2 separate regions of the Homo sapiens genome follow, and region 2 is linked to region 1. The links come from fine-mapping of genetic effects on plasma protein levels. Region 1 holds a variant in brackets. A gene starts in the other region. All regions are shown on their reverse strands.

Region 1 (8,343 bases):
AAGATATACAAGTCCTATATTGACAGCAAATGTATTATTGCTTCTAAGTCACATGAGACCTAAATATTCCTGCCTCAGCCTGGGTTCCTAAAAAAGCAGAGTCTGAACCAAACTTATAAGTGCAATTATTCCAGGAGGCACTAGAGAAGGAGGGAGACACAAAGCAGATGTGTAATATAGAGTCAATCACCCTGTGGGCCACTGGTACTTGATCACCCTGGGTCTGCTTGAGAAACTGATTGAAATGGTTTTCCATTTCATTTGGAGGTTGCAGGGGGGAGAAGATGGAAACATTTATTAATCAGTTCCTAACCCCATTGGTCAAAATTCCACCCCAAGTGTGTTAAAAACCCCTCTCCCCAGACTCAACAGGGAAGCCCTGGAGTGGGAGGCAAGAGGCTTGTTTAAGGAATGGTTCTTTGGGTTACACTTATGTGAGGTTGATTGGAGTCTGTGCAAAACCAGTCGCTACAGTGGTTTTTGGAATAAGTGAAAGGTGGGGCAAAGAGAATCTGATACAGGGCACAAAAGGTATCACACACATCCTTCAACCTTACCATCTTATGGGGACAATAAATTTACATTAACATAATTACCAGAATCTTGCTGCCTCCAAGCTCCAGCTAGCTCACTTGGGAACTCCAGGACTTTGCACAGACTTCCTTCCCCAAGTGTTGAATAAGTCCACAGAGGGTGCCTAATAAAAGCTCTGATGGTGCCCCTGACTACAAAATTCCTGGCTTCTGCTGTACTGCCAGTTCCTTATCTGACTCCAGAGCTGGCAGTCCTCCTGCTTCTCCTCAGGAGTTTGGCATTCTCTTGCAAAGTGGGAAGAATGTTGTGCCTCCGGAGAATTGCTTGGACCTATGGAACATTATAGAACTTAATGAGCCTGCACTTTCCATGCATAAGGCCAGTGAACCCAGCCACCGTGCATCCCTGGGGTGCTTGTGTGCCTCTAGGAGAGCTGGGGAAAATGATTGATGTGCCAGCTGCCATGCCATAGTCAGGACTCACCTCTGCTCAGGAGCTCAGGGTCTGAAGGGCATTGTGGCTGGCATGGCTGGTTTTTCACATTACTTTCCTTTATAGTTAACTTCATTTTCGGGTGTGTGTGTTTGCACGTGCACTGGTTTCTCTTCCTCTCTTTATTCTTCTTTATTTTCATTCCTTCCCTGCCTCCACCAAGTCTCCCAGATATGTCTCAAATATCTAATTCTCAGCCAGGGGCATGGCTTGAGATTTTCTCCAGGATTCTCCTTGGTCCTTATGTAAATTATGAGGGCAAATAGATACTTGGATGGGATTTGGATATCGCCAAATTCCACACGCCAGAGACACATGTATCTTGGCTCTGGCCCAGGTGGGATCTAATCTGTATCACAAGTTATATATCTTATCTCTACTATCCTAAGGACTCTATGGATCATTCCATAGATGAAGCTGAATAAAATCCTTATGAATATGTATAGTTGACCTTTGAACAACATGGGGGTTGGGGCTCTGACCTCCCAAGCAGTAGGAATCTACATATAACTTTAGACTCCCCAAACACATAACTACCAATAGCCTATTGTTGATTGGAAGACTTATTGATAACATAAACAGTTAACACATATTTTATATGCTATATGTATTATATGCTGTAGTCTTATAATAAGATAAGCTAAAGAAAAGAATGTTATTAAGAAAATCACAAGGAAGAGAAAATATGTTTACTATTCAGTAAGTGAAGTGGATCACCATAAAGGTCTTCATCCTCATCACCTTCATGTTCAGTAGGCTGAGGAGGAGAAGGAAAAAGAGGGGTTGGTCTTGCTGTCTCAGGGGTGGCAGAGGCTGAAGAAAATCCAATATAAATGGACCCATGCAATTCAAACCTGTATTGCTCAAGGGTCAACTGCATTTAATTTAGAACAGAACAAATCTTTTCTTCTAAATGCAGATGATCCAAATTCAAAGAAAAAAAGAACATGTATTTTACCTTAAACACTAGTAGACTTAAGTTAGGTGAACCACCTTAAGTGTGTATCAGCCAGCCTAGGCTATGTCTTTGTGACCTGAGGGATAGAGGAAAATAACAAGACTTTAACATTCCTACTTTGCTGCTGGAGAATTTGAGGCACGAGAAGCTTCAGACATAGCCTAGCACAGTGGTTCTCAAACTAAATCTTGCATCAGAATCACTTGGAGCGCTTGTTAAAACAGATTGCTGGGCCCCACTCCCACATACTCTGATTCTGTAGGCCTGGGGCTGGGCCCGAAAATTTTCATTTCAAATAAGTTCCCTGGTAATAATGACACTGCTGGTCCAAATACCATACTTTGAGAACCGCTGGTCTAGTAGCTTCAGCTTGAGATCAGATGACTATTTTGGTTTCTTTCTTCCAGGCTAGATCTTGTTTCATGGCACTTTCTCTAGTAAAGTTGGCGCTTAATAAAGCTGATCATTTTCAAATAGATTTTAATTGTGTACTTTTGGCATTAATAGATAAAAGACCAGAAAGCAGGTAGTACATCCAAATCCAAACTAGAGGAAAGTATTTTTTGAAAGAACTCTTAGTGCTATATATCAGGATTTGGCAAATTACGGTCCGTGGGCCAGATCTGGCCTACCATTTTTGCAAATAAAGTTTTATTGAAACACAGCCATGCACATTCATTCATATAATGGATGGTAGGTTTTGTGCTACAACATCAGAGTTAAGTAGTTGCAACCAACAGAGGCTGTATTTACTAAAATATAAAGTATTTACTTTACAAAAAACGTTTGCCAACCCCTGGTCTATATGTCTTTCTGAGCAACTCTTGGCTGATTTAGGGAAGTTTTCTCTTGAAACCCAGCAGTAAGCAACATCAGTTTACATTAGCAGATATGAAACTCAGATCCTAACACTTTCTTCCGCCCTCCTTCGATCCTTCTCCCTCAACATGGAAAGTGGCCCAATAAGTGAAATGAAACTTGGCCTGATCAGCGATATTAAGAAAGTGGAAGGTGAAAGTGTTGACATCTGCTTGTATTTTGTAGCCCCAGCTTCTCTGGCAGCATGTGACATGGTGAGAGTGCTCTGGTCAGCTAGCCGTCTCACGTTTTGTGGAAGATTGTCTGGTGTTATCTGACCTTGGTTGGATTTATGTCTATGAAGATGTGTGGTTTGACAAAAGATCTACATCCCTTTCTACATAGTGGCTTGCTAGGTGAACTCTTCCTTCTTTGACTTTTGACAATTTCAGTAAATTTGAGTGTCTGTTGTATATTCGGTATCTGTATGTACACATTGATAAACACATCTGCATATTTTGGGGCATATGTTTAAATCATGGTAAAACACACATAACCTAGAAATTACTGTCTTAACCATTTTTAAATGTACAGTTCAGTAGTGTGGTATTTTCACGTTGTTGTGCAACAGATTTCCAGAACTTTTTCATCTTGCAAAACTGAAAATCCATCCCCATTGAACAACTAACACTCCATTCCCTCTTTCCCGTAGCGCCTGCCAGTCACCATTCTATTTTCTGTCTCTACGAATTTGATTACTCTAGTTACCTACATAAGGGGAGTCGTACAGTATGTATCTTTTTGTGAGTGGCTTATTTCACTTATATAATGTTCTCAAGGTTCATCCATGATCTAGCATGTCAGGATTTCCTTCCTTTTAAAGGCAGAATGATACTCTATAGTATCATATGTATACATCACATTTTTTTTATCCATTCACCTGCTGACAGCCCCTTGGGTTGTTTCCGCCTTTTGGCTATTGTGAACCGTGCTACTATGAGCATGGGTGGGCAAGTATCTGTTTGAGTCCCTGCTTTCAATTGTTTTGGGTACATACCCACAAGTGGAATTGCTGGATCGTATGACAATTCCAGTTTTAATTATTTGAGGAAGGGCATATATGTGTTTTAATCGGGTATGCCCATCCTAAACTTTTCGCCTCTTACCTCCTTCCTGATTTTATCTGCCCCTCTGTAGTTGGTTCAGGTCCCCAGAGAAGCTGGCGCCAAGGCAAGATTAAAAGTGCAAGACAGGATTAAAAGTATTTAGTGGGGGAAATGCTGGTGGAGAATAAAATGAGGAAGCAGGAATAGGC[G/A]GGAAAGCCTTCACACTGCAAAGCGGATCTCACTGGAGGAAAGAAAGAGGATTGTGTAGAAAGTCTCAGACTTCAGGGCAATTCTAATAAAGCTGCAGGTAGGTAGATGGGGGGTGCTTGAGCTCAAAGTTGGAGGAGTTCCATGTTTCTCAGGAATGGGTCAGTGCTAATATTGCCATCATTGGTGGGGCAGCTGGGGAAACGTACCCTCTGAAGAGATCTGAGTGGCCACTTTCATAGTCACCATGCCCTTATGTCTCCACATATTGCCACTGAAGATGTAATTTTTTTTTTAAAACAGAAAAAGTGCAGGGCATATTCTGGCAATGTTATATGCGTGGTGGAGAAAAGACTAGGAAGTCAAATGGGATTGGGTGGCAGGGCACCTTAAATGACTTTATTCTGCAATGAAAGGTAAGCCATGAGAGGTCTGTAAGGAGAATAATATGGTTGCTTTTCTGTTTTAAAATGCACTGCTCAGATCTGTGCAGAGGACATGTTTTCCTGGCTGCCCCACCAATGATGGCAATACTAGCACTGATCCATTCCTGAAAAACATAGAACTCCTCCAACTTCTAGCTCAAACACCTACCTGCAACTTTATTAGAATTGCACTGAAGCCTAGGACTTCCTACACAAATGTGGCACTTATCACAATTTGCCCATATGGTTCCCTTTTACTTACATGCGCTTCCTCTCTTAGCCACCCGTTGAAATACTACTTTCTTTTAAACTATTTCTTCACACAACCATAAATGAAATTAGCAGCTCCCTCCTTGAAAGTCTAATTTATTTAGGAAACATTATTTGAAATTATTCACTGTATATACTATGAAAAATACAAAGATGAATCAGATTTGAATTCTGTTCTGAAGGATTGACTTTAATAGGAAAAGTGATATCCCATGAACACTATATTAAAAGGAGAAAGTAAGAAAAGCCTTAAAGCTGGGTACAGAGAAAGTGCAGTGGGAATTCAGAAGAGGGAAAGATGATCTTATCAGAGAAATCCACTATAAGAGGTAGGCCTTCAAGAATCAGTAGGATTTGGGCATGAGGAAATGAGGAGAGGAGGGAATGCCAGATTAAAAACATAACAGGGGCACAGGTATGAATTTTAAAAGAACAGCATTGGCCAGGCACGGTGGCTCATGCCTGTTATCCTAGCACTTTGGGAGGCTGAAGAGGGCAGATAGCTTGAGCCCAGGAGTTTAAGACCAGCCTGGGCAACATAGTAAATCCCTGCCTCTACTAAAAATTAGCTAGGTGTGGTGTCATGTGCTTGTAGTCCCAGCTACTTGGGAGGCTGAGGTGGGATCATCACTTGAACACGGGAGGTCGAGGCTGCAGTGAGCCAAGATGGCACCACTACAGTCCAGCCTGGGCGACAGAGTGAGACCCTGTCTCAAAAGAAAAATAAAAAAGAAAAATAAAAAAGTCCTGACTGATTAAGGTTTTTCAAATTGTGCATAGACCCATTTGTAAAGTGTGAAATAAATTAATAAATTTAGTTTTCCTCTTATCAAAAAAAGAAATAGAATAGGATGGAGAATGTTTGAAGTGTATGGTATGCAGTAAGGGTATTATTTTGTAAAACTTGTTATGTATATATATATATATTTCTACATATATAATGGGTCACTATGTAAATGTACTTCTTCCTGTGGGGCAAGCTTCTTTCTTACATGAGTTTATTCAACAGGATGTCATCATGGAGCATATCTCACATGCTGACCATTAAGCAAAGTCCTGTGTGTGTGTGTGTGTGTGTGTGTGTGTGTGTGTGTGTGCGTGCACATGTGTGTGTGTTTAGTGATGGAAAAAAGCTGACATAGTCTCCATCCTCATAGAGAATATGATTCCGTATAGTGATTCTCAAATTTTCGTGGTATTAGAAACACCTGGAACACTTAATAAAACAAAACACAGATTTTCGGATCCTGCCTTTAGAGTTTCTCATTCAAGGTCTAAAGTGGGGCCTGGGAATTTGCGTTTCCAACAAGTTCCCAAGTAATGCTAAAGACAGTGGGCAGGTGGGTGACTTAAATCAATACAAATTAATACATGATGGCAAACTGTGATAAGTAGTATGAAGGAGATGAACAGGGAATTAAGAGAGAGAATAACTGGGAAACTGGGAAACCTATTTTATGCTGGATGGTCAGGAAAAGGTGTCTCTGGATGGTCAGCAAATGTGTCTCTGAGGTCAGGAAAGGTGACCTCAGAGAAAAGGTGTCTCTAGGAAAAGGTGTCTCTGAGGAAGTGATGTGTAGGCAGTGGGAACAACATGCTCAATGATTCAGAGGAGCTCAGGGAAAACAAAGGTTAAGTGAGATTGGAAAGCAGGCAGGGACTGGACCATGCAGTCCAGCAGTTTTCAAAGGGGAAATACGTGCATTCCTGGAGCAATGAAGACTTCCTACGAGGTAGGCAGGCACACGTGGTTTTCAGAGAAATGCCTTCCTTATGTGCTCTCCTAAAATGGATCTGCTCAATAGCCAGCACTTTGGTACTGATCATTTACCTTTCGTGTCTTTTTGCGAAAGAGAGGCATACGTACTACCTAGCAAATCTTACTAGGGTATTTTGTCCTAGGATGTAAAATTACTTGAGGGATGAAATGAGGAATAACTCAAAATCTTGACTTTGCTGTTGAAAAAATGAATGACTTTAATCATGGAGTAAAAAAAAGTTTTTACTTGTTTTTACTGGTTTTCAAGTCAATTGGTTTCTAATTCTTGGCTTTCTACAAAATCGTAGAACTTTTAGTGTTATTGCTATAACAAAATGTCTTTCATTTCCTCTATTTAGGTGACTAAAACAACTACTTTCTCAGTGCTTACCTCCATAAAAATGAAAAATTGGGAAAAGAATTGATTCTGAAGATGGCTACAGTTTAGCATTAAGGAATATCGAATTATAAATACAGTAACTCACTTAATATCATCAATAAGTTCTTGGAAACTGCTATGTTAGTGAGATGATGTATAAGGAAACCAATTTTACCACAGGCTAATTGATATGAACAAGAATTAAGTTCCTATGGCATATTTCTGGTCACATAAATGTCACCAAACTTCTAAATAAAGAAAAAAAACTTACTAAACTTTAAAATAAGTGTGAGCTATACATACATTTTAAAAAGATGACTAAAACCAAGTAAGATAATTATTTATCAGTCTATTCCAGTTCAGGGCCACGGGTGGCTGGAGCCTGTCTGGGCAGCTCAGGGTGCCAGTGGGAATTCACCTTGGACAGGACACCATTTCATTGCAGGACGCATTCACACCCACACCCACACTCACACGGGGACCGTGTAGACATGCCACTTCACCCAACGTGCACATCTTTGGAATGTGGGAGAAAACTCACGAAGGCCTGGGGAGAGCGTGCAAATCCACGCAGATGGCAGCCCAGCCTGGGAACTATTTTTTTTTCCCAATAACATTATAACAAAACAACGTTGAAGGAAACAAGTTTATTCAAAGACCTGCTATACATGAATTAATCGGATGAAAAACATGCCACTGAATTTGTTAAGAGATTCATTTCTCGAGAGCTTGTTTGGAGGTTCTAGCAGGGGAACGCAGTTACTCTTGTTACTCCTATACCCTTGACCGAAGACCCATCCTCCTCCATCAGGGATGGTTGTCCTCTTTGACCCAGCATGCAGCTTTGGGAGGGACGCACATGGAGCAGTGAGGGAGGAAGGGGACACCACCTAGCCAGCCAGATCAGCTGAATCAACCCTGGCGATCAATGGGGTGACAGATATTGCAGCCAGATCACCCTCACATCCAAGAGATTCATTTCTGATACAACATACTTTATATGTTTAATAATTATCTATATGATTTTAAATATGTTTATGTGATGTTGATTAACTGTACATTTGAAATAAATGTAATAATAACTCCAAGAAGAATACTTTTTAACACTTGTTATGGCCACATGAAAATTTTTAAAATTCCTCTCTTCCTCTCCCTCATTTTTATATATACAGTGTATATGAAAATAAATGTAGTACAGACATATTATATATACATATACAAATATATAGCAGGAACAGATATATAAATATAAACACATAAATATAAGTATAAGCATATATATAGAGTTGCGGAAAAGCATAATAAGATGATCAAAATACTCTGAAGCCAAACAATATATAAGAATAACATTCTCTACATGGTAAGTATAATGGAAATATGAGTTTAAGGAGAAAATGAAATAATGTACTCAGGTA
Region 2 (8,343 bases), not on the chromosome of region 1:
TTTTTACCTTCATATTACTCACAGCGTGTTTATGCTGGTATTGTCTGATTGACCAATTTGAGACACTATTTGTTGACTCCCTGTAAAGGTGAATAGACTTTGGCTTTCTTACACCCCCACCCCGCTTCCTCTCTACCAATTTTTCCAGTGTAGTCAAATCAAAATATGTGTTAAGTTGGGGCACAGTGGCTCATTTCTGTAATCCCAGCACTTTGGGAGGCTGAGGCAGGCAGACCACTTGAGGCCAGGAGTTCAAGACCAGCCTGGCCAACATGGTGAAATCCCATCTCTACTAAAAATACAAAAATTAGCCGGGCATTGTGGTGCATGACTGTAATCTCAGCTACTTGGGAGGCTGAGGCATGAATCACTTGCACCCTGGAGGCAGAGATTTATCCGAAGTATTCCATGCAGTGAGCCAAGATCGCACCACTGCACTCCAGCTTGGGTGACAGAGTGAGACCCTGTGTCAAAAAAATAAATAAATAAAAATAAAAATGGTGTATTAAGCCAGTAGCCAGATTTTACATTATTACCAGCATGTAACTATTAATATCTTTCACACTTAGCAAATGCACCATAATTACATTTCTTTTCTCGTACAAAATTTTATCTTTCCTGGTTGTAATAATTATCTCATTTTTTGTTTGTTTGTTTGTTTGTTTGTTATTTTGAGACGGAGTCTCGCTCTGTCACCCCAGCTGGAGTGCAGTGGCATGATCTTGACTCACTGCAACCACCACCTCCCTGGTTCAAGGGATTCTCCCACCTCAGCCTCCCAAGTAACTGGGATTACAGGCATGTGCCACTGCACTCAGCAACTTTTTGTATTTTTGGTAGAGATGGGGTTTCTCCATGTTGGCCAGGCTGGTCTGGAACTCCTGACCTCAAGTGATCCAACTGCCTCTGCCTCCCAAAGTGCTGGGATTACAGGCGTGAGCCACTGCACCCAGCCTTCATTGTGTTTTTTTCTTAATTTCCCAAGTATCCATCAAAAATTCATCCCATGGCTGTGGGCAGTGGCTCATGCCTATAATCCCAGCACTTTGGGAGGCTGAGATGGGAGGATCACTTGAGACCAGGAGTTTGAGACCAGCCTGGGCAACATGGCAAGACCCTGCCTCTACAAAAATTTAAACAAATTAGCTGGGTGTGGAGGCACACCTGTGGTTCCAGCTACTTGGGAGACTGGGGCAACAGGATTGCTTGAGCCTGGAGGTTGAGGCTTTACTAAGCCATGTTCATACCAGTGCACTCCGGTCTGGGCAACAGAGCAAGACCCTGTCTCAAAAAAAAAAAAAAAAAAATTCATCCCAAGTATTCCATCATATCTGCCAAACACCTATCAAAGTTATTTTCAAATTACCTAAGTACATGAGCTTATTCGTGACACTCACTACCACCACCCCAAGGCTTATTCCTCTGCTCTTCTGCCCCAGCCTGAGGTGGTTATTAAAGTAATTATTCTCCAAAGATGCTTCCCCTACCACTCCAATGAACCACACTTCCTCGCATTCACATCCTTGTATTGCTCCCTCCACTTGAATTCTCTGGGATGGCCTTATAATTTGCCTTTTGACCAATAAAATACTGTAAAAATGATACTGAATGTTACCTAAGGCTAGGTCATAAGAACCTTTGTGGATTATTCCTGAGCATGTTGGAATGCTAATTTTTGAGAAAGCCAGATCCTATGTAAAAAATCCAACTACTCTGAGACCACCATACTGTAAGGAAGCCCAAGCTTCCATGTAGAAAGGTCATGTGGAGAGAGACAGTTGTCAGTCCAGCCCCTATCTCTTCTAGTCATTCTATTAATTTGCTAGACATACAAGTCCAGCTAGAAGTGTCATTTTGGATGATCAGTCATGTGAGTGAGAAAGTTATCTTGGACAAATAGTCCAATCTAGTCTTGAGATAGCCACTGTCACTGGGTGAGAGCTACCCAGCTGAACACTGTCATCCCAGGGAATCATGAAAAGTACATTGACATTGTTCAGGCACTAGGTTTTGGGGTGGTTTGTGATGCAGTGAAACAGTTCCCCTCTAGGTCTGTTCTGCAGTTTTCTTTGTGAAATTTTTCTTCCCTGGAGTTAGATGTCATGTTTTCTGGACCCCATGACTTTCTGTTTCCTGGTTATTTCTCCCGTTTTGCTACAGATTTCTCTTCCATAACTTCTAGGAAAGGAAGTATAGTAAGTAAATTTTGAATCTATGTCCAAAAAGGCCTTTATTATGATCTTACATTTGAGAAATAGATTGTCTGCGAGTAGGATTCTAGGTTGAAATTAAATTTCTCCTCTGGATTTTTTTTTTTTTTTTTGGACACAGGTTCTCTGTCTGTTTTCCAGGCTGGAGTGCAGTGGCACAATCTCAGCTCACTACAACCTTCACCTCCCGGGCTCAAGCAATCCTCCCACCTCAGCCTCTGGAGTAGCTAGGACCACAGGTGCGCATCACCACACTCGGCCAATTTTTTGTATTTTTGGCAGATATAGATTTTCTTTTCCTCTTTTTTTTTTTTTTTTTGATGGAGTCTCCTTCTGTCACCCAGGCTGGAGTGCAGTAGCATGATCTCAGCTCACTGCAACATCTGCCTCCTGGGTTCAAGTGATTCTCCTGCCTCAGCCTCCCAAGTAGCTAGGATTACAGGCATGCACCACCACACCCAGCTAATTTTTGTATTTTTAGTAGCGACCAGTTTTGCCATGTTGCTGGGACTTGTCTTGAACTCCTGACCTCAAATGATCTGCCCGTCTTGGCCTCCCAAAGTGCTGGGATTACAGGCGTGAGCCGCCACGCCCGGCTGATACAGGTTTTTACCATGTTGCCCAGGCTATTCTGGAACTCCTGGACTCAAGTGATCCACCCACTTTGGCCTCTTAAAATGCTGGGATTACAGATGTGAGCCACCACACTCGGCCTTCCCTCTGAATTTTGAAGGCATTCGTGCATTATTTTCTAGCTTTGTTGTTTGGAACAACAATGCCATTCTATTTCCAAATCCATTCAGTGCAATATGTTGTTCTTTCTCTCTGGAGTCTTTTCGTATCTTTTCTTTATGTCTGATGTTCTCATATTACATGATAATGTCTTGCTTTTTGGGGATATTTTTATTCATTGAGTTTAGCATTTGATTGACCCGCTCAATACTGAGAGTCATCTCCTTTAGTTACGAGAGTCTTTCCTTTATTATTTCTTTAGTAATTTCCTCTCCTCTATTTTCTTTTTTAATGTTCTGAAACAATCCTAGTCCTTTGACTTTGTAGATGGTTATAATTTCTAACAAATTTTCTTAACTTTATTTTTCAAAACTTCCATAAAATTCGGGACATTTTTATAATGTCTATGTTCTTTTTCATGAATGTAAAATCTTTCTTTCTGAGAAAATATTAGCTTTTTAAAAAGTTTTTGAAGTTCTCTTTAGCTCTCCCTGTTATTTTTGTCTCTTTTTTATGTTAAATGCTTTCCTCAAATGTCTGATGATCCCTGGTTATCTGTTCATATCTGAAAGGGACACTAAAGACTCATTAACAGTTCTGCATGCATGGCTGAGGCTCATGCACTGATGAACTTATTGAAGGAGGGTTGAGTGGTTTTGTTGGGGAACACTCAAAACTATAAATATCTGAAAATGTTTTATTGGGACCACTTAGTTTATCCAGAGATTAAATCCTCCAGTTTCCTGGGATAGAATGGGGAAAGGATCCCTTGGTTCTGTGGGCATTCAGTGGGAAGATTCACTCTGAATCCCGTTATTTTCATCCCTGCTCATGTTAGTCTGGCTTCTCTGGGTCTAGAACCTCACCTGATATTTAGATTTTTCACTGATACCTTCAGTAGAAGCAATGTTGAATGTTTGAGGTTTGCTGGCTGTTTACAATCAATTAAGGATTTTTAAAAATCTAGAACATTTGTGAATTCTTATATTTTCTTCCTGGTACTAAGTAGGAGCTAGCCACAGGTAGGCCTCATCATATGGATACATTACCCAAACGGTCACAGGTCAAAGGACAATGTAGTGATTAACCATAAGCTTTGGAATCAGGAAGTTCTGGGCTTCAGTGTCTTCCTAAAACTTAAAAAAAAATTTAATTTTTTTATTAAACTTTTTTTTAAATAAAAAATTGAGATGGGGTTTCGCCATGTTGATCAGGCTGGTCTCAAACTCCTGGCCTCAAGCGATCCTCCCATCTCGGCCTCCCTAAGTGCTAGGATTACAGGTGTGAGCCACTGTGCCTGTCCTCACTTTTCTTTCTCCATTATTAGGGCAAGGAGGCCAGGGGACAGGGTGAGGGAGAACCTAGAATGGGAATGGAGGCAACTTTCAGTCTAACTATGCTTTGGCCCCATGAGGAATCTACATGTAAACACTTGCCAGTATGGAGAGTCAATTGCACTTTGTGACAGGCTGTACAGCAGTTGGGACAACTGTGGCACATGCACAGGTTATACAGGCATATTTGCACCAGCACATGCATGGATGCTTGTGCACATATAGGAAACCCACTATACACATGGACAAAGAAGCACAAGTATGTCCACGCCATCCCTCCACACACACACTAGTCACCAGGAGAAAAGGGCTCAGCACATTTCATCATGCATCGCCCATTGGGGGAAGCCATGTAGGACAGGAGAAAGGGAAGATTATGAGGCAAAAAGAGAAATGAAACTAAAGAGTCCCACCCTGTCAGCATTAACTGGGATATAAGAGGTTGGGCTTTGGATAGATAGACAGACTCCTGGGTCCGGTCAACCGTCAAAATGTCCAAAGAACCTCTCATTCTCTGGCTGATGATTGAGTTTTGGTGGCTTTACCTGAGTAAGTGTTCTGAAACCTTCTATGTAGAAGTTTCCAGAGGACTTGCTATTGTGTGATGGATTTCCATGCACTGGTTTGGGCCTCAGTGAAGCAGAAGCTCACTTCATTTCTGCATCCCTCCCCTCTCCCTACCAGGCTTCCTTCTGTGGAGGGTCTCTGTCCTGCCTTGTTACACAGAGGTTTATCCAGAGACTGGTCTGGGGGTTTTAGGCTGGGGTAATTTGGGCTTATATTGGAAACAGCAACTGAAGAAGAGACACAGAAATAAGTGGTCAGATAAATTGGGGAAAAGAGATTTCCTCTATGGGTGTTATTCATATAATCAATAAGCCAGGAGAATTTGTTCTGGTGAGAATTGTGATAATTCTTATCATTCCCTCTGTTTTTAGAAGTGTTTGCTTTTTGTTTTGTTTTGCTGGGGTGAGGCTTTATGTAAGGTTTCTTTTCTGCACGTTGTTTTTGGGTTTTGGATGATGCAAGTGTACACACTCAGTTTTGGCCAGTGAAGTTCTTTGCATCCTGGTGGTATAGAGCCAAGTGTTCTGGCCTGAGCTGCAGCTGCGTCTCGGGCACTAACTGTTGACACTGGGAATATGTCTAAATTGCTCTGGCTCTCCCATATTTGAAATGAGAGACCTGGCTTTTTAAATGACCAGTTGTCACAATCTGTGCTTCTAGGACAAGATAATATTGAATGGCCCTTGCAGTTTTACAAAAGTCCATTTTTTTTTTAAATGGATACAAAATAACTATACATATTTATGGGCTACATATGTGTTATTTTGATATATACATACAATGTACAATGATCGAATCAGGGTAGTTGGGATATTCATTTCTTGAAACATTTAAATTTCTTTGTGCTGAGAACATTTCAAATGTTCTCTTCTAGTTATTTTGAAATACACAAGAAATTATTAATAACAATAGGCACCCCACTATGCTATCAAACACTAGGACTTATTCCTTCTATTTAATTGTATTTTTTCCCTTTTTCCTCATGTTCTAACTAACTGTATTTTTGTACCCATTAACCTGCCTTTCTTCATACCCCTTTTCCCCTATCCTTTGTAGACTCCAGTGACTATCATTCTATTCTCCACTTTCATGAGATCAACTTTTTTAGCTCTCATGTATGAGTGGGAACATGCAATATTTGTCTTTCTGTGCCTAGCTTAACTTAACACAATATTAATAAACTCTGTTTCCATCCATGTTGTTGCAAATGACTGAGTTTCATTCTTTTTTTATGGCTGAATATTCTACTGTGTTTATATACCACATTTTCTTTTTTTTTTTCTTTCTTTTTTTTTTTTTTTTTTTTTTTTTTTTGAGACGGAGTCTCGCTCTTTTGCCTAGGCCGGACTGCAGTGGCACTATCTCTATCTCGGCTCACTGCAAGCTCTGCCTCCTGGGTCCACGCCATTCTCCTGCCTCAGCCTCCCAAGTAGCTGGGACTATGGGCGCCTGCCACCATGCCTGGCTAATTTTTGTATTTTTAGTAGAGACGGGGTTTCACCATATTGGTCAGGCTGGTCTTGAACTCCTGACCTCAGGCGATCCACTCACCTCGGCCTCCCAAAGTGCTGGGCTTATAGGCGTGAGTCACCGCACCTGGCCATATACCACATTTTCTTTATCCATTCATCCATTGATGGACACGTAGGTTGCTTCTATATCTTGGCTATCGTGCATAGTGCTGTAATAAACATGGGAGAGTAAATATCTCTTTAATTGATTTCCTTTCTTTGGGATATATCCCCAGTAGTGGGATTGTTGGATCATATGGTAATTCTATTTTTAGTTTTTTAAGGAATCACCATACTGTTTCCCATAATGGCTGTAGTAATTTACATTCCCACCAACAGCGTACGAGAGTTCCTCTTTCTTTGCGTCCTCGCCAGCAATGCTTGCTTTTTGTCTTTTTGATAGTAGCCATTTTATCAGAAATGAAGTGATACCTCATTGTGGTTTGGATTTGCATTTCCCCAGTGATTAGCAATGTTAAACATTTTTTCTTCTACCTCTTGGCTCTTTGTATGTGCAGAAACCTTTCCAACATGGTGCATGAGAAAACACCCATATTTGAAGGAAAACAAATGTGTTTCATCACCTCTCAAACTTGTACTATTCTCTCTGCCTTTCTTTCCTCCGTAGTGCCATGCATCCTCAGGTCCCTACTTAATTCAGGCTTTTCCTGGCTACCTTGTAGCCTCTGGAATAGTTCAGGTGTTTCTGCTATGAGTTCGCATCCTCCTTGGAGTTCCTGCATCTGTAAACTTGTCACTCTATAGCAAATGCTCACTCATTTGACTATCTTCCTAGGTACTCTGCAGGCCCCATGAGGGCAGCCCAGGTCTGCTTTGTGGCTTGTTATATTCCAGCACCTAGTTCCACCCTTGATACATTATAGGCACTGAAGAAACAATCTACAGGCCAGGGGTGGTGGCTCATGCCTATAATCCTGGCATTTTGGGAGGCCGAGGTTGGTGGATCACCCGAGGTCAGGAATTTGTGACCAGCCTGGCCAACATGGTGAAACCCCGTCTCTACTAAAAATATAAAAATTAGCCAGGCGTGGTGACATGTGCCTGTAATCCCAGCTACTCAGGAGGCTGAGGCAGGAGAATCGCTTGAACTAGAGAGGCAGAGGTTGCAGTGAGCCGAGATTGCACCACTGCACTCCAGCCTGGGTGACAGAGTGAGACTCTTTCTGAAAAAAAAAAAAAAAAAAAGGGGGAAGAAAAAAACAATCTACAGAATGAAAGCAGTCCCTGTCACTTTCACACTTATATTTTGGGTTTGGTATGGGTTTGTTTGGATGTAAGAAAGCTACCATCTGCCTTTTCATCAATTTTTTTTTACTGTCTTTGTCTTATCCTGGAAACTTGAAGTTTGGAAGGTTTTGTTAGGTTGAAAGTTGCAGGGGTCTATGTCTACATGTCCTGCTACTAGCAAGACACTGGTTGAGGGGAATTTTCTAATCCTGCTTGAAGGAGGCAGCACCTGGTGAGCTGTTTTTTGTTTTATTTTGTTTTTTTTTTCATAGGTGCCTTTTCTTTTTTCTTTTGTTTTTCAAAATATTTTTGGGTTTTTTCGAGACAGAGTCTCACTCCAATGCCCAGGCTGGAGTGCAATGGTGCAATCTCGGCTCACTGCAACTTCTGCCTCCCAGGCTCAAGCAATTCTCCTGCCCCAGCCTCCCAAGTAGCTGAGATTGCAGGCGCCCGCCACCACAGCTGGCTAATTTTTTGTATTTTTTAGTAGAGACAGGGTTTCACCATATTTGGCCAGGCTGGTCTTGAACTCCTGACCTCAGGTGATCCACCTGTATCAGCCTCCCAAAGTGCTGGGATTACAGGTGTGAGCCACCACACCCGGCCTATATGTGCCTTTTCTAAGATAACCAAATTAAAAGAGAGTGACTGCTCAGAATCACCAAGGATCAGAGCTGGATGTACTCTTAAAAGATGCCCTTCACTCTGTAGATGGCAATTTTGAGACTCAGATTGGGGAAG

Direction of the effects. Positions count from the first base shown, and alleles are read on the strand shown. Strength reflects both the effect of a copy and how common the allele is.
In carriers of allele G in region 1, the plasma level of the protein whose gene starts at base 4,740 in region 2 tends to be lower than with A alone (weak association).

What was found. PIP is the posterior inclusion probability: the model's chance that the variant is causal. Protein levels are from antibody-based Olink assays in UK Biobank. Linkage for the fine-mapping came from a reference panel and not from the study's own genotypes, which makes the PIPs less certain.
Region 2: TIMD4 starts here. The variant in region 1 is fine-mapped to the plasma level of the TIMD4 protein (UK Biobank, PIP above 0.99).

What each region holds. Positions count from the first base shown.
Region 1 is chr6:105,903,926-105,912,268 of GRCh38, reverse strand. It overlaps the pseudogene RN7SKP211. Among named protein-coding and RNA genes, the nearest start is that of PRDM1, 180 kb to the left of the region's middle. The variant G/A (reference allele first, on the strand shown) is at 4,098.
Region 2 is chr5:156,959,623-156,967,965 of GRCh38, reverse strand. It overlaps TIMD4 (T cell immunoglobulin and mucin domain containing 4), which reads left to right and starts at 4,740. Exons shown (of 9, transcript NM_138379.3): 1 at 4,740-4,825. The coding sequence starts at 4,768.